Homo sapiens: one gene and its partners. The protein of the gene in region 1 interacts with the protein of each later gene in a biochemical or structural test. Each region holds a gene or a part of one and is shown in the gene's direction. Other genes may lie near its edges.

Region 1 (7,096 bases):
GACTCAATCCAGATTCACTCACTGCATGTGCCTGTTATCACCAGTGATCTTTCAACAAATGGTAAAGCTTCTCTGAGCTCCTTTACCAAAAGCGCATCCTGTCAGTTAAGCTGAAGTTCAGAGATGAAGCACCAACAGCCCCATCCTCGAGAGCCGGATCCTGGGAGCTTTAAATCTCATTTTCCAAAGCTAGGCAGCAGTGAGAGGTCTGGGTGCCAAGCCCCCTCTAGCTCTTGTGATCCTCCCTCATACATGGACTCAACCCCCAAATCCTCCCCACCGTCCTCAGCCCCATACCTCCTGGCTCATGCGGAAGGGGGTTGGAGGCCCAAGCCTTCATAGCCCTGACTTGAACTCAACCTCTTACTCCTCCCTTTTATCTAATCCTGCAGGTTGAAAGTAACGGAAGCCTACAGAAACTGATCCGCATCCGAAATCCCTGGGGAGAAGTGGAGTGGACAGGGCGGTGGAATGACAAGTGAGGAGGGCGCAGGCCTCGGGGCCCCAGGCGGGGGTGCATTGTGCTGGGAGGCTCTGGGAAGAGGGCGAGAGAAGAAGACATGTGCATTATTCTGAGAAATATAGCCAGGAGAGCCCAGGCCACGTGGACAGGGACCCGTGGACAGGGGCCCCTCAAAGGGTCTTTTAACCAGGACACTCCTCCAGCAGCCTGAGTGCCTTCTTCCAGGCCCCAAGCTGCTCGTGTGAAGTTCATTCCTGCCACTGCCTCCAGGTTCACCCCTTCCCTAGCTCAAATCCACCCTTCTATGGGGCTTTCAGGGAAAAAAATACACCCCACCTTCCCCCAGGCACTTCTATTACAGGGATGTGAACTTTGTACCAAAGGCCAGAGAAACATCCCTCTGTTGATTTCCAGGGCTTACTGGTAGGCATGTTGAACCCTCAACTATTTGGGGTAAACACTTGTTTGTACATCTGCTGTGGCAACCTCAGCCTACTTGCTCTGCCTCAGGTTGGAGAGGTGGGCAGTACAGAGGCCTGTGTGTAATTCCAGCCAAAGCTCAGGCAGTGGTTAGTTTACCCTGTGCACTGCCCCTGTGTACAGGGCCAGGTCCTTCTGCTCCGTGGACAGAGAGACACCTGCTGAGGCTTCCCAGGCCTCAGCCGGAGGCTCCTCATCAGATCTTCAGTTGTCTCTAAAAGAGCTGCCAGGCCCATCTCAATTGGGCAACTGCTCTGAGCTACTCCATCTCCCTCTAATGAACTATGTTCATTTTCTGGACTCTTCCTTGCCACTGTCTTCCAGCACAACTCACCCGCTCACTTTGCTCCCTGGTTTGCATCTGTATAGTGTTCTATACTCTTTAAAGTGCTGTAAGAGTATTAAAATGCAGCTGTTAGCCAGATGTGGGCTACTTTCCCCCTTTCTGGAGCCTGAGCCCTCAGAGGTGAGAGCAGATGTCCCTCTTCCTCAACTCTGGGGCCTTTGGGGAGAAATCATCGTACACTAACGCCTCTCTCTTTACTTTGTTTTCCAGCTGCCCAAGCTGGAACACTATAGACCCAGAGGAGAGGGAAAGGCTGACCAGACGGCATGAAGATGGAGAATTCTGGTAAGATTAGTGGAGGCTTCAGGGAAAGCTCTGTCTGCCCCAATGTTCTTTACTAGAAAACTGCTAATTAGAAAGAGTGTCGGCCAAAGTGAGTTTACCATGTCGAGGACACAAGCGTGTGGGATCCTGGTTTTGTTATTTTAAGTTCACTATAAGAGCCTGAATAAAGAAATTCTTAAGCCCCTTCAACGGTCCATCTTGACAATGGGGTTTATAAGCTGAGCAGCTTCAGAAAAAGGCTAAGAGGAATTCCTTTGGTAATGTTCAGATCCCAGGAAACAAGGGAAAGATGGGGCCTTTCTCCCCCAGGTTCCGGAGACTCATCCCAGCCCCTTAAGAAACTGGTCCCTTAGTGAGCAGCAATGGACCCACATGTCTGTGTGTCTGCGCCACTCTATAACCACCTGCACCTGGACACAACATGCTCTTTATCAAATGGGGCCCATATATTGTCACATTTGATGGGCACGGCTCCCATTTTTGCAGGTGAGAGTTCTGAGCTTCAGAGAAGTTTAAGTAACCTGCTCAAAGTCACCCAGCTAGAAAGTTGCAGCGCCAGGACTGGAATCTGGGCCTTCTGATTCTGAACCTGGTGCCCATCCACTCAGTTCTAATGAGCTGCTCTGCCTGGCTTTGGGTGGCTCCTGGTCTGGTGTTGGTGGAAAGTCAAGGCTTACCAGTGTGTCTTCTTATCACCTGTGATGATTGTCTCTGCTTTTGCCAGGATGTCTTTCAGTGACTTCCTGAGGCACTATTCCCGCCTGGAGATCTGTAACCTGACCCCAGACACTCTCACCAGCGATACCTACAAGAAGTGGAAACTCACCAAAATGGATGGGAACTGGAGGCGGGGCTCCACCGCGGGAGGTTGCAGGAACTACCCGAGTAAGGGCTGTTGCATATAAGGGCTGTTGCAATGCGGGGCCACCAAAGGCCAAAGCTCCCCTTACCCCACCCTGTGTACCACACCCCAGCCTAGCAGCCCCAGGAGGCAGCTCCTGCTCACTGGAACCCTCTCTGTCTTCTTTCTCCCTGAGCCTTTTCTTTTCCCTGAGCCTTTTCTCCCCGAGCTCTCTTTCTCAATCCCTTACCTCCTGCCCTACCCAGGACAAACCCAAGAGCCACTGTTTCTGTGATGTCCTCTCCAGGCCCTAGATTCCCCAGCGCCCATCATGACCTTCAGCCTGACCTTCCGCCATGCTCACGGAAGCAGTGCTCAATCCCACTTCACGGCCATGAGCTGCTCTATGCACCCCACACCCAGGCAGCCGAGCCTACAAGGGAACCTTGTCCCGGCACCCAGGGAGCCCTCCACATATCAGGCCCTGTTTGTTGCCCCATACTCACTTCAATCAGCAAATGTTGACTGGGCGCTGCCCAGATGGGGTGAAGATTTCTCCTCTGGTCCAGCCTTTGTTGAGCCCCTTGATTCTTCTGCCTTCATGGCTTAGTCCGTCAGCAGTTGTCTGAACATGATGACATCTGCCAATTATGGGGCACACCTTCAGTGCTTGGAACTATCCTAAGTGTTTTGTACACAGGGTGAGGATCCATAATCTGAAAATGTGAAATCTGAAATGCTCCAAAATCCAAAACTTTTTCAGCCCCAACATGATACCACAGGTGGAAAATTCGACACTTGACCTCAGGTGACAGGTCGCAGTCAAAACACAGTCAAAACTTTGTTTCATGCACAAAATTATTTTAAATATGCTATAGAATTACCTTCAGCCTATGTGTATAAATTATATATGAAACAGAAATGAGTTTTGTCATTAGACTTGAGTTCCATCCCTAAGATATGTTATGTATATACAAATATTCCAAAATCCAAAAAAATCCAAAATAGGAAACACTTCTGGCCCCAGGAATTTCAGATAAGGGATATTCAGCCTGCATAACATTCTATCTAACCTTCCCAACAAACTTCTGAGGCAGGCACTTTCTTATCACCTCCATCTCTAAGATGAGGAAACTGAGGCTTGGAGAGGCTAGTGACTTGCTGAAGGCCACAGAGCGTGCTGGGATTTGAACCCAGGCCCCCTGACTGAGGAGTCACTGTGTAAGTACAGTGGCAGCAGATCATGGTCACATAGTGATTCTCTGTGACAGATGAGGAAGCTGAGCCTCTAAGTCGCATACCAGGGCCACAGAGCAAGTAGTCAGACTGCGGCTAGCTGGCCTACAGTTCTGGGGCTCGGACTCCTTCACCTCAAGTATGCAGCCACCAAGTGGCAGTCCCAGAGGCGCTGGGAAGGCCCTCTGCCCCCCACAAGGGACCCCTCCTACCCACTAGATCAGGAGTCGGAAAACTCCCTCTAAAGGGTCAGATAGTAAATAATTTTGGCTTTGTGGGCCACTCAGTCTCTATAACAACAACTCTATTGCTATAACCCAAAGGCAGCCATACTTAAGCGAATGGCCGTGGCTACGTTCCAATAAAACGTTATTTACAAAAACAGGCAGCGGCCTTCGGAGCCATAGCTGCCAACCCCTACACAAGATGGTGCCTGTAATTTCACAGTTAGGGTTTTATCCCATTAGGTATGGAAAGGCAATTAGCATAATTCCCCTTAAACATGAATGAATCTTAGATTTTTTAAATAAATAGGTTTTGGAAGTAAAGAGGGCAGAGACATCAGGAGCAGGGCAAGGGAATAGGCCTGAGAGGACAAGGGACGCAGAACAAGAAAGAGTCTGGAATTATACACAGGATGTTCTTGGCCTCCGGGCTCACCGAGGGGGCGGCGACCGGCAAGTGCAGGGAGCAGATCCCGGAGTCCCCCAGGCCAGCCGAGCCCCGCCCCAGGCTCCCCATCAGAGCCCAGTGAAGAGAAGGTACCATGAGGGGAAGCCACAGCTCTAACCACCCTGCGTTCCAGAGTGACAGACCAGTCCCCAAGACAAGCCAGCCTGGAGCCAGAGAGAGAACTGCAAGAGAAAGTTTCTAATTTAGGTTCCTGTTAGATTCAGACAAGTGCAGGTCATCCTCTCTCCACAGCTACCGTCACCCGTCTCCAGCCTAACAAAGCCTGCAGTCCACACTCCAACCCTGGTGTCTCCCACCTCCTAGCCTCTCCCAACATCGCCTGCCGTCTCTGACCATCTTCTGCCATCCTCTGCCATCTCCCACCATCTCCCACTGTCTCCCACAGCCTCCCACCGCCTCTTGCCAACTCCCACCATCTCCCGCCATTTTCTGACATCTCCCGCTGTCTCCCACCATCTTCTGCCATACTCTGCCATCTCCCACCATCCCCCACCACCTCTTACCATCTCCCACCACCTCCCACCATCTCCCTTTATCTCCATCCCTCTCAGAAGCCTCCAAGCCTGAGACCAGGGCCACCCCCCACCCCCATGCATTCCTGCTCAGGGCTGGGCTCCTCTGCCCCTTTCTGGCTGCAGACACATTCTGGATGAACCCTCAGTACCTGATCAAGCTGGAGGAGGAGGATGAGGACGAGGAGGATGGGGAGAGCGGCTGCACCTTCCTGGTGGGGCTCATTCAGAAGCACCGACGGCGGCAGAGGAAGATGGGCGAGGACATGCACACCATCGGCTTTGGCATCTATGAGGTGCAGAGCGCAGGGGCTCCTGCCCTCCCTTCCCCATGTGTTCATCTCAGCCCCTGCATGGAAAGCTGACCCCAGAGGCAGAACTGGGGATGGGATCCCAGACCGGGAGCTTGGCCAAGGAAAAACAAAACTACCAGCCTGGCCAGGCTCAGGAGTAGCCCCCGTAGGGAGGCCCCTGCAGTGGCTCTGGGTTGTGGGGCCTTCTAAGCCCTTCACGGGCCCCCCACAGCCAGCCTGCAGGGAGTTCCACTCTCAAATGGCCTCCACATCCCTTCTCACATCCTCCAGGCCTGGCATTCTGGTCAGCCTACCCATCTTCAAAGAACAGAATATACTGGGCCACATCAGGCAATACTGTGAGGGCAGGACTGAGTCCATGGGTGCAGCTGCTCAGAGCTCGGCAAAGTCATTGGCCTGGATGGTGGAGAGCTTGGGGACAGGGGAACATTGGTCATGATGCTCCCCCCAGGGCTCTGATGGCTGGAGCCCAGATCCCTACACAGACTCCTGCTGTATGCGTGTTTTCCTTTCACTCTGAGCCACAGCCAGAGGGCAGCCGCATTGCAGTCTCCTCTCCGCCCTCAGGCTGGGGCTGGGGCACTGAGAACTCACCCAACACGCTGGGCCCCTGGGCTCTCCCCACTCCCTTCTGCAAAACAAGAAAGAGCTTTCGTGGGCTGCAGGTAGCCATGCGAGGAGAGGGATGAAAGGAAGGCTTTAGGGCACTGACTGGGGATGCATTTCGGTTTGATGGGCTGGAGCTGGCTCCTCCCGGCTCCCAAAGCCCATCTCTTTTCTCTGACCCATGTCTGCTGAGGTCCTTCAGCAGCCTGAAAAATGGCCCTGGCAGGGACCTGTTTACACCATGGAAAGTGGCAAATAGTACAAATCAGAGCTTCCACCCTCTCCCAAGAGCCAGTTTCCCAGCACACCCCTGGGAGAATCCAGACGAGGTGTCAGGAGAGGAGGCTCTGTGCTCACCACTGGCAACGTTGCCACCCATGGAACACTGACTTCTACCTGCTCACCCACCTGAGAAAGGCAGCTGGGCAAATACCATCAGTTGTAAAAATGCACATAGGCCTAAACCCCTCCGTCTCTGAAACAGGAGCTGAGGACTTCGGATCTGGGACAGAATCGATCCAAGGACAATGCAAATGGAATTGTGATACACAGCTTCCCTCCCACCGGCTTATGGGCTTGGAAATGCAGCCACGGGCTTTCAGAGTTGGGACGGACCTTGGGGATCACTGGGTCCTATTTTTGAGACAAGAAAACTGAGGCCAGAGAGGAGAGGGGACTTGCTCAAGGAAATGCAGACCGGACCACTGGACCTGGCTGACAGAGGCCGGCACTGCTGGCTCCTAGCCCCAGGTGTATTTCACCTCGCCTGCTGCCTCCTCCAACAGGGCCCGCCTGGCCCTCTTTCCCTGCGTGGGAGGCCGATATGGGCTTTGCCACCTTAGACAAGTCTCTTCACATCTCCATGCCTGAGATTTATACTCTAAGTTAGGAAGGGAGGTGAGGGCTTATCAACATAAGAGGATTTTCTTCAGTGTTGGAGAGGCTTTGAGTTCCTTGGAAAACAGTTACTCGGTTGAATTAGTTGATATTGCTAATGCTACAGAGAAAACGGGGGCAGCGGAAGAGAAGAGCACAGTGATGCATTTTCTTACACTGCTTTTCCGGCATCTGAATTGCATCTCCTTTATTTTGCAGGTTCCAGAGGAGGTACGTCTGGCCCATGTCCCGGGGTGCTCAGGTCACCAAAAAAGCGAGAGGCTTAGACTGCTGGAGCTCAGGGAGCGTCGTGAAGCCCGGGCAGGGGCTGGTGGTCATGAAGGATGAGTCCTGGCCACCCCTGGGGCCCTGCTGAAGTTGCCCAGGCTCTAGATCCCACTGGTCTAAGCTCTGGGCAAGGTTTCTGGAAAGTCCTTGTGGGAC
Region 2 (7,509 bases), on another chromosome or scaffold:
ACATGGAAGCATAGCCCCTAGTCCTGGGGTGGCCGTATTGCTGTAAGAACATTCTCCATCCATGGGAGATGTGGAATCAGATGACCTGAGCTCCATTTTCACACATCATACTAGCTGTGTGACCCTGAGCTGGTTGCTGAACCTCTATGTGCCTCAGTTTCTGCATTTACAAAATGAGGGTTAGTAGGAGCCTTCAAGACAATGCAGCAAGCCAAGTGCCTAGTTAATTGGTATTAATCTTTCCTGGGGAAGGGGGAGAATACCAGAATCTGAGGGGCTGAGAGGGTGGAGGTCCAGGAGCTGAGTGCTTTGGTGTAGATTCCTGGGTCTCGTGCTGTTGGGATCTTTACCTGGACACTGGTGAAGAACCCCATTGCCAGGTCTGCCCTTACCTGTTGGATGTGGGCCCCTCAGGATGGTCTGGGAGGAAGGCTGCAGTGTGAGTGGCCCCATTGTGAGAGGTGGCAGGCTGCAGGGTTTAGGGAAAAAATCCAGGGTCTGGGAACTGAGAGACTGGATCTCTGCTTTTTATGGGCTCTGTGACCTCTGATGAGTCACGCCACCTTTCTTGACGCAGTGTGGCTGTCTGTTAAGCAAGGGGGCTGGATTAGGCTAGCGGTGCCCTGAGACTAACCCTCCTGGCAAACACATTCGCTTGGACCTTCAGAGTGGTTTTTTTTTAAGCCAACACTTTCAAATTTGTATTTTTTCAATTTTGTAAAAATATTTTATATAAAATATGGAGTTGAGGGTTCTATGGCAGATCAAAACATGTGGAGATGTGGGCTTGTGTTGCTGCATGCTGTAGTGGGGAACCAAGGAGTGGGCATCCCCCTCAGCTGGGGCCTGTCCTCACCAGGCCCTTGTGACCCCTTGCCCGCTCCCCTCATTGAACTTCTAGGTGACCCCCAAAGGCTGTTACCGTGACCCCTGGGCAGCTGAGCTTGAAGACCTTTCCAGCTTTAAAATGCTCTGTTACCTTCAGATGCTGTGACCAGTGGTGACAAAGGAAAGGCTTAACGCCCTGGTAGGAGAGGGGTGGACATCAGTAAGAATATTTTGGTGGACAAGAGTCAAAGGAAAGGAAGAGTGAATTGGATGGGGCTGGGGCCTTGGCCTGGGAAACTCGTGTCATCGCAGAAGGTGGAGCTGGAAGGGACCTTGGAGGCCATCAGTCCTGTTATTCTACAGGTAAAGGAAACTGAGGCCCAGGGAGGGGCCTGCCAGGCTCAGGCTCTAAGGCCATTAGCTCATTCCTGACCACACTCACCCTTCCTTCTGCCTTGGCTCCACCCTCCTCCAGCCCCAGGGCCAGCACCACAGCCCACAGACCTGACTCTGTTTCTTCAGCTGGCTGCTGAGCAGGGGGCTGGAGGGATGAGCGGAGGGAGGTCTCCGCATGCAGCGGGAAGGCAGAAATGGGGATGGCACAGGGTTGGGGCTGGGTTCTGAGGCTTCTGGGATGCCAGTGTAGAGCCCCAGCCAGTCCTCCAGTGTGTACTCCATGTCTGCTGTGTGTGAGACAGGGGTCTGGGCACAGGGTGGGGATCCCAAGATGAATGAAACCATCCAGGCCTGCGGAGAGTCTGCAGCTGGCTAGAGCTTGGGAATGGGGCATTGGCAGCAGGCAGAGGTGGCTGCAGATAGGGTGGCACTGAAATTGTGGGCAAAAGTGTACAGGCAGGGCTGCCTGAGGCCCTTTTGAAGGGAAAAGAAGGAAGGTTTGGGAAGGAGGCAGTGAATGCTTACAGTAGGAAAATATGTTAGGATCCATTGACTAATTGATTGAGTGATTGAGTCATTCTTCAACCATGTCTGGTGCCTGCTGTATGCCAGGCTCTGGGGATACAAAACACAGGACACGTCCTTGCCCGTGTGTGGGTTGGGGTGGAGACACCAGGCTGTGAAGGAGGAATAAAGGCTGACAAGCCTGGAACAGGGTCATTACACACAGTTAGAGACACCTCAGTCGGCAGAGTTTAACATTCAACAGGGAAAATGGTGGTTAATTAGCAGGAAGGACATCTTGATGATAAGCGATTAATATACAGGAGAGACCCCATAGGCTTGGAGAAGAGGGATGGGGGTATTCTGGAGGGAGGGTTTCTCCAAGGGAACCCCCAGCACTAGGGTCCCCTACTTCCATTCACAGTCCTAGCTGAGGAGTCTGGGGAAGCAGCAGGGCCTCCTCGGGCTGTGTAGGAGGCCAGACAAGTTGGTGTCACTGTGACTTGGTTTTTGGTTTGATTTTCCAGCATTTCTGGGAAGCCCCAAGGTGACTTCTCAGAACTCCAGAGAAAGCTGCCTGGAGGCGTCTTCAGTGACGCCAGCAGTGAAGGGCTGTGGGAGCAGGCAGCGGGGAGCTTGGTGTGAGTGGGCACTGGGATGTCAGGGCTTAGCTGGCTGAAGGCTTGAACTTGTCAGGGGACAAGGGCAGCCTGGCAGAGCTGGTGATAGTGGCTGAGGAGGGGCTCAGGGGCTCTCAGAGAGGCCTCCTGAAGACCACTCCCCTTTGCTTGCCTGGTGCTCCAGCCAGGGGAGACGGGAGGGTTTGCAGAGGTTTCTGTCTATGGACATCCCCAGCTGTGACTGCAGGGCCAACTGCATGTGGAACACTGGTTCATTTCAGCGTTGGCTAAAATGTCAGTGAAGCCCCAGGAGGCTTAGAGTAGGGGGTCCAGAGGGACATTGTGATCCTGGCAGGGAAGGACACTAGAGGCAGGATCTTTCCCAGCCCCAGAGCTCTGGAGGACTTGGAGAAGTATGGAGAGAGGACCCTGACTCCTCTACCGGAACAAAGACTCTTCACTCAGGTACCTGCTTTAGGAAGGGCTGGAAATTGACACTTCACTTCAGTGTCCTCCCCTGACTTCTCAGAACCACCAAACAATAGATGGTTAGTCCCTTGTGCTGTGGACAACCTGTGTATCTGAATACTGCAGTCTTTTTTTCAGATGAAGAGTCAGTGTTTCCCCTTCATTCTGGGGTTTCCCAGGTAGATGTCTTGGGTGGTCCCTGGGCTGGGAGTTGGCACAAGTGGCTGGGCAGATCCCTGTGAAAGAGGAGGCTGGTAGTTGCACGGTATGTGGTGCTGACAGACAGCGGCATGGCATGGCCTTGGGTGAGTGGGGGGGGGAGGCAGGGGATCTGTAACCCTTCGTGCATGTGGCCCCAGGGCATGTATAGCACAGTGTGCATAGGAGGCCAGGCAAGAGAACTTTTCTTGCTAAGTGACTCAGTCTAGGAACGAGGTCTCCAAGTGCCTACTCTGGGAGGGCTCTTATGTGTTGACGTGAGTTGGACTGTGTCCTTGTGTGTGTGTGTGTCCACAGGAGGGTGTGGGGCTGAGCCCTCCCTCCTTCTCCTGGACAGCTCCAAAGAACAGAGCGGGTGATTCACTGGCCCCCACCCACCCTCAGTTGGTCCAGCCAAGGCCAGAGCTCAAAGAGGAAGGGTTTTTTTTGGAGGGGAACGTGGTGGTTCCAGACAATGAAGGCCTGGGGCAGACTTTGCTGGATTCCCCCTTAGTGCTCCGTGGGAATACTTTTGGGTTTTGACCCAGCCTCCTTTCCACCCTCTAGACCCCCAACAATTGTCCCTGGGCAGAGGTGGGGGCGAGGGGAGGGGAGGGCTGGTGGGCAGGGGACACTGAGGGGAAGAAATAGGCCTGTGGAATGGTGGGAGGGGAGAACTGGGCCCAGGGAGGGGGAGAGGGGAGGAGGGGGAGGAAGTGGGGAAATGCAAACCAAATGTTGGCCCCGGGTACAGTCAAGAAAAACACACTCTCGCGGGAGCCTGGAGCGGGGCTCCCTTTCAGAAGGGCAGGAAAGGCTGGGACAGATGTTTGCAGGAAAGAAAGAAAGAAGGGGGAAAAAAAAAGAAATAGGAAAAAAATTGGAATGAAACCCACAGCCTGGGGGCAGGGCCATTCTTCCCCAGTCTCGGGCCCTATTTCTTCTGTGTTAAGGCCTGTCCTGGGCTCTGAGCTTGGCGCGTGGGCACCAGAGTCTGTCCCAGTCTGTGTGTGCAAATGCATGTGTGTTCCGAGGAGGCCAGGAAGGCAGGCACGGGTACTCAGAGAAGGGGAGGGGCCAAGGCACCCTGAGTGTGCTGATTGTGTGGGCCTGGGGCTGTCTGTTCATCCATCAGTGGTCTGGAGGGTTCCAGGAGTGAAGGCCCCCAGGCTGGTTTGCCAGGGGCGGGGGTCTGCAGTGAGGAGGGAGGACTCCAGGCCTACCAGCACCAGATCAGAAGACTGAGGAGCCTTGGTGGCACACAGGGGTTGTGTGTCCGGGGGTGGGGGGCACGGCCTGGGGGGGCCCTGCCTCTGGTAGCTTTCCCTTTTCCCTGTCCCCTTTACACCCCCTGCAAAGCAGGGTTCCTGACCCTCAAGGCCACCGGTGGAGCCTGGGAGGAGGGAGGAGAGAGGAGGCTGGGACGAGGGGTGGAGTGGGGGGAGGAGGAGGAGGAGGGAGGGTGAGCTGGAGGCAGCAGGGCGAGAGGCCCAGCAGATGCTGGCGGAGCCGGAGCAGCCGCGGACTCAGAGAGCCCTTCTGCCAGCGCCGCGGGGACTCTAGCTTCAGGGGCTCTTCACAGGCCCTGGGCGTGCCTCAGTGACGGGACCCAGCAAAGATGACGTGGATCTGTCTGTCCTGCATGCTCTGGGTAGGTCTGGCTGCTTTAGCTGCGACGTTACTCTTCCTCAAACCCCCCGCCCCCCACCGGCCCCTGCCACCTTATCCTTTTGCTGAGAGCCCGGGGTCGGGGGGTGTCAGTCTTGAAGGAGGGGCCTTTCTGTCTCTGACCTACAGAAGGACAGACTGACTTGAGCAACCCTCAGCCGGAAGACTTTCCCCACCAACAGGGCCCAGGCCCAGGGTCCCGGGTCAGTACATCCCCTGCCCCACCCCCCCACCCCCCAATGGAGTCCCAGAGCTGTAAGTGGAAGGAGGCCACAGAGAAGTTTGCTTCTCTTTAGAGCCTTTCCTCCCGACTTGCATCCTACAATGGGGTGAAAATTCTTCACCGCCCCCCCTCAGTTGCTGAGCCCAAGATCTTGAGGAGGAGGCAGTGGTGGGGCTGGGGAGCAAAGAATAGTAGTCCAAAATATTAAGTCTGGAAGAGCTGGGCTGTGGGAGAATTCTCAGAGTCCATCCCTTTTATTCCTTCTACACCCAGTTTCAGCTTCCACCCACTGCCATCCCTTCCTCCACAGCCCTCCCCTGCTACCAAGACCTCTCCATCCTGGAGGAGGGAGCCATGGCCCGCTCTTCCCCCTTTCTCTCTTGGCTCCAGGTTCAGGGAGGTGGGTTTCAGGATGGGGATGCCAGGGGGGCCAGCAGAGAGGCCTGGGGGCCACGTGGTGAAGGTTAAAAGTCTTAAGGCCAGACCTGGGCTGAGGCTCCTGGGTAAAGGGGGATGGGAGAGGGCTGCCTGCTGCAGAAGGGCTGGGGGTCAGAGGAGGAGAGGACCCCTTCCTCAGAGGGGCTCCTGTGGGGCTGTCTTGGCCAGGCAAAGGCATGCATGGGGTCAGGAGGGTGAGGAAGTCGTCCCTGGCTGAGGTTACTGTTGGGCTCTGAGAGAGTGATGGCTGGTTTGGGGGAGGGGGCTTCAGGGCTGTGATCCAGATGTGGCCTTTCCTGTCCCTTTCCTTGTTCTGGCCAGTCCTCGGGAGGGCCCTCTTGGCCCAGGCAAGCCCATGCTGGGGGCAGTTGTGGGAACACAAACTCGGGCAGCCAGGTGTCCTCTGGGCAAAGAAAGAAAGGGTGGGGGAGGGGGCCTGGAATGAGGCGGTTTGGGTGGCATGTTGGGCTGGGGTGCTGGGATGGATTGGATTAATAGATTGAGAGTGACTGGGGAGGCCTGCACACAGGATGCATTTGTGGTTTACTGGGCTGGTGTTGACATCTGGGAAATGGGAGCCTTGGCCAGGTTCGTCTCTGTGCTGAGGACAGAGGTAGGCAGGAGGGAGCTCTGCAGCAAGAAGGATGGCAGGTAGACGTCCAGGGGTGACACAAGAAGGATGGCAGGTAGACCTCCAGGGGTGACGAGCTGCTGTGACTGGAGAGAGGGCTCTATAGATCCCTTCAGCTGACTGATACTGGGAAAAGTGCCTCATCCTGGTGAGCCTCTGCTTTCCCGTTGGTGAAATGAGGATTGCAGAGAAACAGGGTACAGAGAGGTAGGGATGAAATTTTGTATCCAATTCCCCAGGGCAGTGCCTGGCAGGTAGAGTGCCCTATGGGTGTTATACCCTCCCTGAGAGTAAGGGGAAGAGTCTGGGGACCAAGGCAGCTGTGAGTGCTGCTTCCTTGAGTGTCTTTATTTTTATTTATTCATTTTTTTTTTAATTGAGATGGAGTCTCACTCTGTCACCCAGGCTGGAGTGCAATGGCATGATCTTGGCTCACTATAACCTCTACCTCCTGGGTCCAAGCAATTCTCCTGCCTCAGCCTCCCGAGTAGCTGGGACTACAAGTGCGTGCCAACATGTCCAGCTAATTTTTTATATTTTTAGTAGAGATGGGGTTTCATCGTGTTGGCCAGGCTGGCCTCGAACTCCTGACCTCAAGTGATCCTCCCGTCTCAGCCTCCCAAAGTGCTGGGATTATAGGTGTGAGCCACTGCGCCTGGCCTTGAGTGTCTTTAAGACTAGAAAAGCCTGTGTCCCTCCCCTGTCTCCTTTTCCTCTCCTCTCCTAGTCCCCATCCTTTCTAGGCTGGCTGTGATGCCCATGGCCAGGATGGGCCAGAGACTGGGGCAGTAGGGACTGGACAGAGGAAGCAGTCCTGGCACCAGATAGGACTAGGCTCAAACCCTATTTCCATCGTTTGGTATGGGCAGGCTTGGTAAAGCAGTTCCCTTCATGAGCCTCAATTTCTTGATCTGTAAAGTGCAGAGAATAATATACTCCTTGTATGGCTAGGGTGGGGAAAGAGACAATAGATATCAAAAGATCAGGTATGTAGGCATGCAGTAGGTGCTCAGCAAATGCTGGCCCCTTTCCCACTCCACAGTCTCCTGCCTGGTTCTTGGGATCCTCTGTATCCCAGACCTGATGCTGGGGGAGGATCTCCCTGGGAATGGTGTCATGGGACAGGGCTCTACTCCTTGGGCTCTACTCCTGGGCTGACTGCCCAGGGACTCTGACCAGCTACTCTGAGGCCAGGAAGTGACTGAGATAGTTCTTGTGCCCTAGAGTGAGTGCTTGCATCTATTGGTTCACATGTTCCTGTATGGGGAAAGCTGCAATTGTGTCATCTAAGAAGTAATATATCTGTAGTGCATAGTTTTAACAAGTCCTAGGAATAAAAATCACTTTATTAGCTGAGGAGCAGAGCTATTTATTATGCATAACTTGATTTTCTCATCAAGTGCTCCCATTTGCTATTACATATTCAAGTACGGTTTATTTAGAAAATAATTGCATGCCTAGCAATTGAGGCTTTTTGATGTTGTGCTGGAGGAGTTAGAGGTGGAGGCCCTTCCTTCCAGAGGGACTCACTGGTC
Region 3 (7,000 bases), on another chromosome or scaffold:
GCGGATCACAAGGTCAAGAGATCAAGACCATCCTGGCTAACATGGTGAAACCCTGTCTCTACTAAAAATACAAAAAAATAGCTGGGTGTGGCGGCGTGCGCCTGTAGTCCCAGCTACTCGGGAGGCTGAGGCAGGAGGATGGCATGAACCCGGGAGGCGGAGCTTGCAGTGAGCCGAGATCGCGCCACTGCACTCCAGCCTGGGCGACAGAGCAATACTCTGTCTAAAAAAAAAAAAAAAAAAAAAAAAAGAGTATTTAGCAGAGGCCAGGTGCAGTGGCTCATGTTTGTAATCCCAGAACTTTGGGAGGCTGAGGCGGGCGGATCATTTGAGGTCAGGAGTTTGAGACCAGCCTGGCCAATGTGGCAAATGTGCTGTCTCTAACTAAAAATACAAAAATTAGCTGGGTGTGGTGGTGCAGACCTGTAGTCCCAGCTACTTGGGAGGCTGAGGCAGGAGAATCACTTGAACCTGGGAGGCAGAGGTTGCAGTGATCCGAGATCATGCCACTGCACTCCAGCCTGGGTTACAGAGTGAGACTCTTCTCAAAAAAAAAAAAAAGTATTTAATAGTGATAAATCTGCAGTATTCTCTTGTAGTTTTTAAGATCATATTATTCAGTCAAAGAAAAGAGCTCAACTTGAAATATTTCCAGAGTTTAAACAATCTTACTAAGCTTTGATGGGTTGTATCTATTCTTAACATGTGAAACTTCCTTATTACCTATAATATACACTAACTTAAATATTGACAATTTTTTTCCAGTGGTTTAACTTGAATTCTCTCTTGACGGGTCCAGAATTAATATCAGATACATATCTTGCACTTTTCTTGGCTCAATTACAACAGGAAGGTAAGTAACGGCTGAACATTTTGTAATGTTACCTTTCGAAGTAGTTAAATAACCAGGCACATTAGATGACAGTGTGATAAAACTGTTTTTCTGGCAGTGGCAGTGAAACAATCTTTAGTTTTGACGTGGTGATAGGCTGTGATTTGGGTGACGCTGTTCAGTTAGAGTTCTCACTGACACCTGGCCCTTCCTCTTCTGAGGATGCTGCTTTCTTTGCAGCCCTTCTAAGTAATGGCTTTTTCTTTTATACATCACATATCACACGGCTGAGAGGAGGGATAGATGTTTTTCTTCTTTGCCTCTTCTAGGCCACTGTTCTTCCTTATAAACTCCAGTTTCTTTGAAATACATGCCCCTAACGGCTGGGCACGGTGGCTCACGCCTGTAATCCCAGCACTTTGGGAGGCTGAGGCAGGCGGATCACGATGTCAGGAGATCGAGACCATCCTGGCTAACACGGTGAAATCCTGTCTCTACTAAAAATAACAAAAAATTAGCCGGGGTGTGGTGGCGGACGCCTGTAGTCCGAGCTACTCGGGAGGCTGAGGCAGGAGAATGGCGTGAACCCAGGAGGCGGAGCTTGCAGTGAGCTGAGATCGCGCCACTGCCCTCCAGCCTGGGCGACAGAGCGAGACTCCGTCTCAAAAAAAAAAAGAAAAGAAAAAAAAAAGAAATACATGCCCCTAGATTAAACTATCCCTTGTCCTTTTGCACTCATCCACAAGTCTCTTTTCATCAGTGATTTTAGGATCTGACTCGTTGTCTTTTTCTCTACTTCAACTACTTTTATCATTCTTAATTATTTCTGTATCGTCAATCAATCCAGTACCTGCCTCTTAGTTTCAAAATCACTTACTCTTGCTTAGCTATTACCAGTAATCATAACCACTGTCAAATCTCAATTGCAAGCATATTACTCTTTAACTACCACCTCCTATCTTTAAACCATGTTTTGTCTGTTTTTTTATTCCAGCCATTCTTTAAACCCTACTGTGGGGCCCAAGCATTTCCTTTATACGCATTCTTCCTTTCTTCTACTGCTTATTTTCTGTAATCCGTCATCATAATCACTCCATTGCATTCTTCAACGTGTTTCCCCTCTCTCCCTCCATCATACTTGAATGACAAAAATCTCAACCCTGGTTAAACCACATCTTGGCCTTGTCCATTCCTGTACCAGAGTAGCTGGACGTGGCTAAAAAATAACATAAAACATGATGATTGGTTTTACTTTTTTCTTAAATGATCTATCCATCCATTCACCCATCCATCTATCAAAGTGACTAGGCCTATTTCTGAAGCCCAGGCTGGAGTGCAGCAGCATAATCACAGCTCATTGCAGCTCCAAACTCCTGGGCTCAAGTGATTCTCTTGCCTTAGCCTGTTGAGTAGCTGGGACTACAGGCTTGTGCTACCACACCTAGCTAAGGTTTTACTTTAAATTTATTATAATCACAAAATTCAGATGAGCCTTTAGTGCTGTCTGATATTTCTACTATGTTTTCTTAGTGATGTACCACCCTCCAAGGTGTTTATAAAAAATTATGTACCACTCTCCAAGAAGTTTATAAAAAATAATGTGCCACCCTCCAAGGTGACTAATTTCACAGCTTATGTCTTTAAACCTTTAAGCACTTTCCTCTCCCTTACACACCTTCCTTGTGGCTTTCCGTTACATTCTGCTGAGAACATAGAAGCAATTAAAATTATGTTCTTTCTACCAGCAAATTTATCAATTTGCTTATATCTTCACCTGTGCTTTGAGCCTATTTAAATAGATGAATGGTCCCCTACCTCTAACCAAAACCAGTCCCTCACTTGTGGGCTGGATCCCAGCTCTTCTCACCTACTCAAGATGTTCCTGCTTTCATCTCTCCACTCTCTTATATAATCAGTTCCCCCCCCCTTTTTTTGTAATATTCCTATAAGCAGTAAAATAAGCTTTTTATTTCCATTGATTAAAAATAAAAATCCTCTCTTAATTCCATGAAACTCCAGCTGCCTCCCCATTTTTATTTTTTCCTTAGGATTGTCTCTAGTGTGCCTTCTCCTTTTCTTGAACTCTGCCTCCTGGGTTCAAGCGATTCTCCTGCCTCAACCTCCCGAGTAGCTGGGATTACAGGCGTGCACCACCATGACCGGCTAATTTTTTTTTTTTTTTTTTGAGATGGAGTTTCCCTCTTGTTGCTCCGGCTGGAGTGCAATGGCGTGATCTCGGCTCACCGTAACTTCTGCCTCCTGGGTTCAAGCGATTTTCTTGCCTCAGCCTCCCGAGTAGCTGGATTTACAGGCATGTGCCACCATGCCTGGCTAATTTTGTATTTTAGTAGAGATGGAAGGGGTTTCTCCATGTTTGTTAGGCTGGTCTCCAACTCCTGACCTCAGGTGAGCCGCCCACCTCGGCCCCCTAAAGTGCTGGGATTACAGGCATGAGCCACTGCGCCTGGCCCCGGCTAAATTTTTTTTTTTTTTTTTTGTATTTTTAGTAGAGACAGGGTTTCACCATATTGGCCAGGTTGGTCTCGAATTCCTGGCCTCGAGTGATCCACCTGCCTCAGCCTCCCAAAGTGCTGGGATTACAGGCGTGAGTCACCTTGCCTAGCCATCTTTTAGTAATGGTATTTGGAGATCACAATTTGAGTGCTGGCATGCTTATTGCTGCTGGGTTTGTTATGTAGTTATTGTGAATTCACATTTAGGAATATAGGGTTTTTAATTCTTTGATTTTAGATACTTGTATCTTTTTTCTTTTATATTTAAAACCTTGGTTCCTGATGATATCCCTTCTTAGAAACCCTGTCTACCTTTGGCCTTCAGCCCACCATGCTGTGGTTTTCCTAACTTGCTGCCTGCACTTTTCAGATTCCTTTCATGGATCTTAAATATCATCTGTAAATAAGATCTATGTGTCAATAATTACCAAACTTTTATCTTTAGTCTTGACATCTACCCTGAACACCTAGCTTTGACTAACTCCTAGCTTTGGCATCTCCACTTGGAAATCCAAAAAGTGTTTCAAACTGAACATGTCTATGAAAGACTTATTTTTTTCTCTCTATCCATGCTATCCATCAGGTTTTCCATTTCCATAAGGGTGACTCTTGTACTCTGGTTCCTATATATTATACCGACAGAGCAGCCCAGAGTGCTTCTTAACCAGTGTAAGGCCTGTTATGTCCCACCCTCACTCTTTGTCCTTCAGTGGCTTCCCAGCACACTTAGAATAAAATCTGAAGTCTTAGGCCGGGCTTGGTGGCTCATGCCTGCAATCCCAGCACTTTGGGAGGATGAGGGGGCAGATCACTTGAGGTCAGGAGTTGATGAGACCAGCCTGGCCAACATGGTGAAACCCTGTCTCTACCAAAAAATACAAAAATTAACTGGGTGTGGTGTTGTGCACCTGTAGTCCCAGCTACTCGGGAGGCTGAGATAGGAGAATCACTTGAACCCGGGAGGCAGAGGTTACAGCGAGCCAAGATCATACCACTGCACTCCAGCCTGGGTGACAGAACGAGACTCTCAAAAAAAAATTAAAAAAAAAAAATATGTGAAGTCTTGAATAAAACCCAAGATCTTTACCATGGCCCCTGAACAGGGCAGAGTATCCATTCTTCAGACACTCTTCATAGAATACCATGGTGAGCTGGCATATTTATTATACAATACAGAAACAATTTTACTGGCAGAAAACACATTAAACCGTCTAAACTCTGAATACAGTTGTCCTCATAAAAAATGTTCAACATACTATTTTGAGGTTTTCCATTAATAGTTCTTATAATCTTTGTCCCATTATGTGTTAATCCAACAAAGGATATCCAATAACAAACACCAAAGTTTAAGAAAAATGTGCTAGGCGCGGTGGCTCACACCTGTAATCCCAGCACTTTGGGAGGCCGAGGTGGGCAGATCACCTGAGGTCAGGAGTTCGAGACCAGCCCAGCCAACATGGTGAAACCCTGCCTCTCCTAAAAATACAAACATTAACTGGGTGTGGTGGTGGGTGCCTGTAATCCCAGCTACTCAGGAGGCTGAGGCAGGAGAATCGCTTGAACCTCCTGGGAGGCAGAGGTTGCAGTGAGCTAATATTGCACCACTGCACTCCAGCCTGGGTGACAGAGTGAGACTCCATCTCAAATTAAAAAAAAAAAAAAATTAATGATAGAGAAACTTAAATCAGTTAGATTGTTTTAGGTATAGCCCATCCTTGGTTTTTGTGTGTAGCATCTAGCTTGGGGAAACCCTGGATTTCTGGAATCATATTTAGACACAGTCACACTAGACTAATGTAATTCTTTTGGGATGCAAACCACACGTTTGACACCTTAAATAGCTTTTAGGTATTTGGCTTCCCAGCCCCTATTTTTAGTTACAAGGGGTGTACATGTGTGGGTCAGGGTGGGGGTAGCTCTTTCCGCAGATGATTAGTTTTAGCCATGTTACTAGTTATTGCACACATTATCTGTGTCCTCACAGCAGCCCTGTGAGTAAGTGTATTAGGGTTCTCTAGAGGGACAGAACTAATAAGGTAGATGTATATATGAAGGGTAATGTATTAAGGAGTATCGACTCGTATGATCACAAGGTGAAGTCCCACAATAGGCTCTCTGCAGGCTGAGGAACCAGGAAGCCAGTCCAAGTCCCAAAACCTCAAAAGTAGGGAAGCTGACAGTGCAGCCTTCAGTCTGTGGCAAAAGGCCTGAGAGCCCCTGGCAAACCACTGGTGTAAGTTCAAGAGTCCAAAAGATGAAGAACTTGGAGTCTGATGTTTGAGGGCAGGAAGCATCCAGCATGGGAGAAAGATGAAGGCTCAGCAAGTCTAGTACTTCCACACTCTTATTTCTGCCTGCTTTATTCTAGCTGAGCTGGCAGCTGATTAGATGGTGACCACCCAGTTTGAGGGTGGGTCTACCTCTCCCAGTTCACTGGCTTAAATGTTAATCTCCTTTGGCAACACCCTCGCAGACACACCCAGAAACAATAATTTGTAGCCTTCAATCCAATCAAGTTGATAATATTAACCATCACAGGAAGGTACTAGTATCATATGTTTAACAGTAGAAACCAAGACAAATGCAGCTAGGAAGTGGGAGAACTGGGATCAGATGCAGGCAGTCTGATTCTAAATCAGTTGCTGTTACCCACTCTGACAACAGTAAGTGAGTAGCCTGCTCAGTCAAGTACTATATTAGTAGGGCCCTTTACAGACATATTTATTTCTCACAGTCACTCAATGAGACGGCTCTTCCAGTCTTACAATGGAGAAAGTGAGGCTCAGAGACTTTAAGTAACTTACCTTAGACGACTTTACTAGTAAGTATAAGAATCATTATTTGGACTAAAGTCTTTCTGAATCCTCAGCTTGTATTTTTTTCCAGTGTTCTGTGCTGCCTTTTTATCTACTAGTGTTTTACATCAATTTTGAATCTCTTTACTAACTGGTTAGGTTGATTTTTGCCTTTTTTTTTTAGGTTATTCTATATTTGTCGTTAAGGGTGATCTGCCAGATTGCGAAGCTGACCAACTCCTGCAGATGATTAGGGTCCAACAGATGCATCGACCAAAACTTATTGGAGAAGAATTAGCACAACTAAAAGAGCAAAGGTAAAAATGAGGCCTGCAGTATGGAATATATGGTAGTATTTCATTATGAGAATTAAATTTTCATGCTTAGATTGAATATGTGGTCCTTGTGTTGTTGGCGACTCTATTTTGGACCTTATATTTTAGTGAAGTTTATTAGTTTAAACTTGAATCAACTCTTTGAAATACTTAAATATATTAACTTAGTTAGCTGGTATGGTATATTCCTAGCACTTCGGGAGGCTGAGGCAGGCTGATTGCTTCAACCCAGGAGTTCGAGACCAGCCTGGGCAACATGGCAAAACCTCATCTCTACAAATAGTACAAAAATTAGCCAGATGTGGTGGTGTATGCCTATAGTCCCAGCTACTTGGGAGGCAGAGGAAGAAGGATCACCTGAAACTGGGGAGGTAGAGACTACAGTGAGCCATAATCACACTACCGCACTCCAGCCTGGTCGAGAGAGTCAGACCCTGTCTCAAAAAAAAAAAAAAAAAGAAACGGAAAAAAAAAACTTAGTTGGATTCAAATTGCAACACAATCATTATATTACTAGAGCTTATT

The links. The genes of interacting proteins can lie anywhere in the genome.
Region 2: of the proteins of CAPN2 (region 1) and TNS1, one has a biochemical effect on the other in vitro, tested with the Homo sapiens proteins (one study listed by IntAct).
Region 3: of the proteins of CAPN2 (region 1) and ATXN3, one has a biochemical effect on the other in vitro, tested with the Homo sapiens proteins (2 studies listed by BioGRID).

Annotation. Positions count from the first base shown.
Region 1 is NC_000001.11:223,750,498-223,757,593, forward strand, and holds part of CAPN2 (calpain-2 catalytic subunit), read left to right. Parts: intron 1-392; coding exon 393-478; intron 479-1,499; coding exon 1,500-1,574; intron 1,575-2,298; coding exon 2,299-2,459; intron 2,460-4,982; coding exon 4,983-5,152; intron 5,153-6,871; coding exon 6,872-6,883; intron 6,884-7,096. UniProt on the Homo sapiens protein: Calcium-regulated non-lysosomal thiol-protease which catalyzes limited proteolysis of substrates involved in cytoskeletal remodeling and signal transduction. Proteolytically cleaves MYOC at 'Arg-226'.
Region 2 is NC_000002.12:217,999,996-218,007,504, reverse strand, and holds the start of TNS1 (tensin-1), read left to right. Parts: upstream 1-4,509; 5' UTR 4,510-4,632; coding exon 4,633-4,665; intron 4,666-7,509.
Region 3 is NC_000014.9:92,082,583-92,089,582, reverse strand, and holds part of ATXN3 (ataxin-3 reference isoform), read left to right. Parts: intron 1-765; coding exon 766-853; intron 854-6,079; exon of another isoform or gene 6,080-6,170; intron 6,171-6,324; coding exon 6,325-6,457; intron 6,458-7,000. UniProt on the Homo sapiens protein: Deubiquitinating enzyme involved in protein homeostasis maintenance, transcription, cytoskeleton regulation, myogenesis and degradation of misfolded chaperone substrates.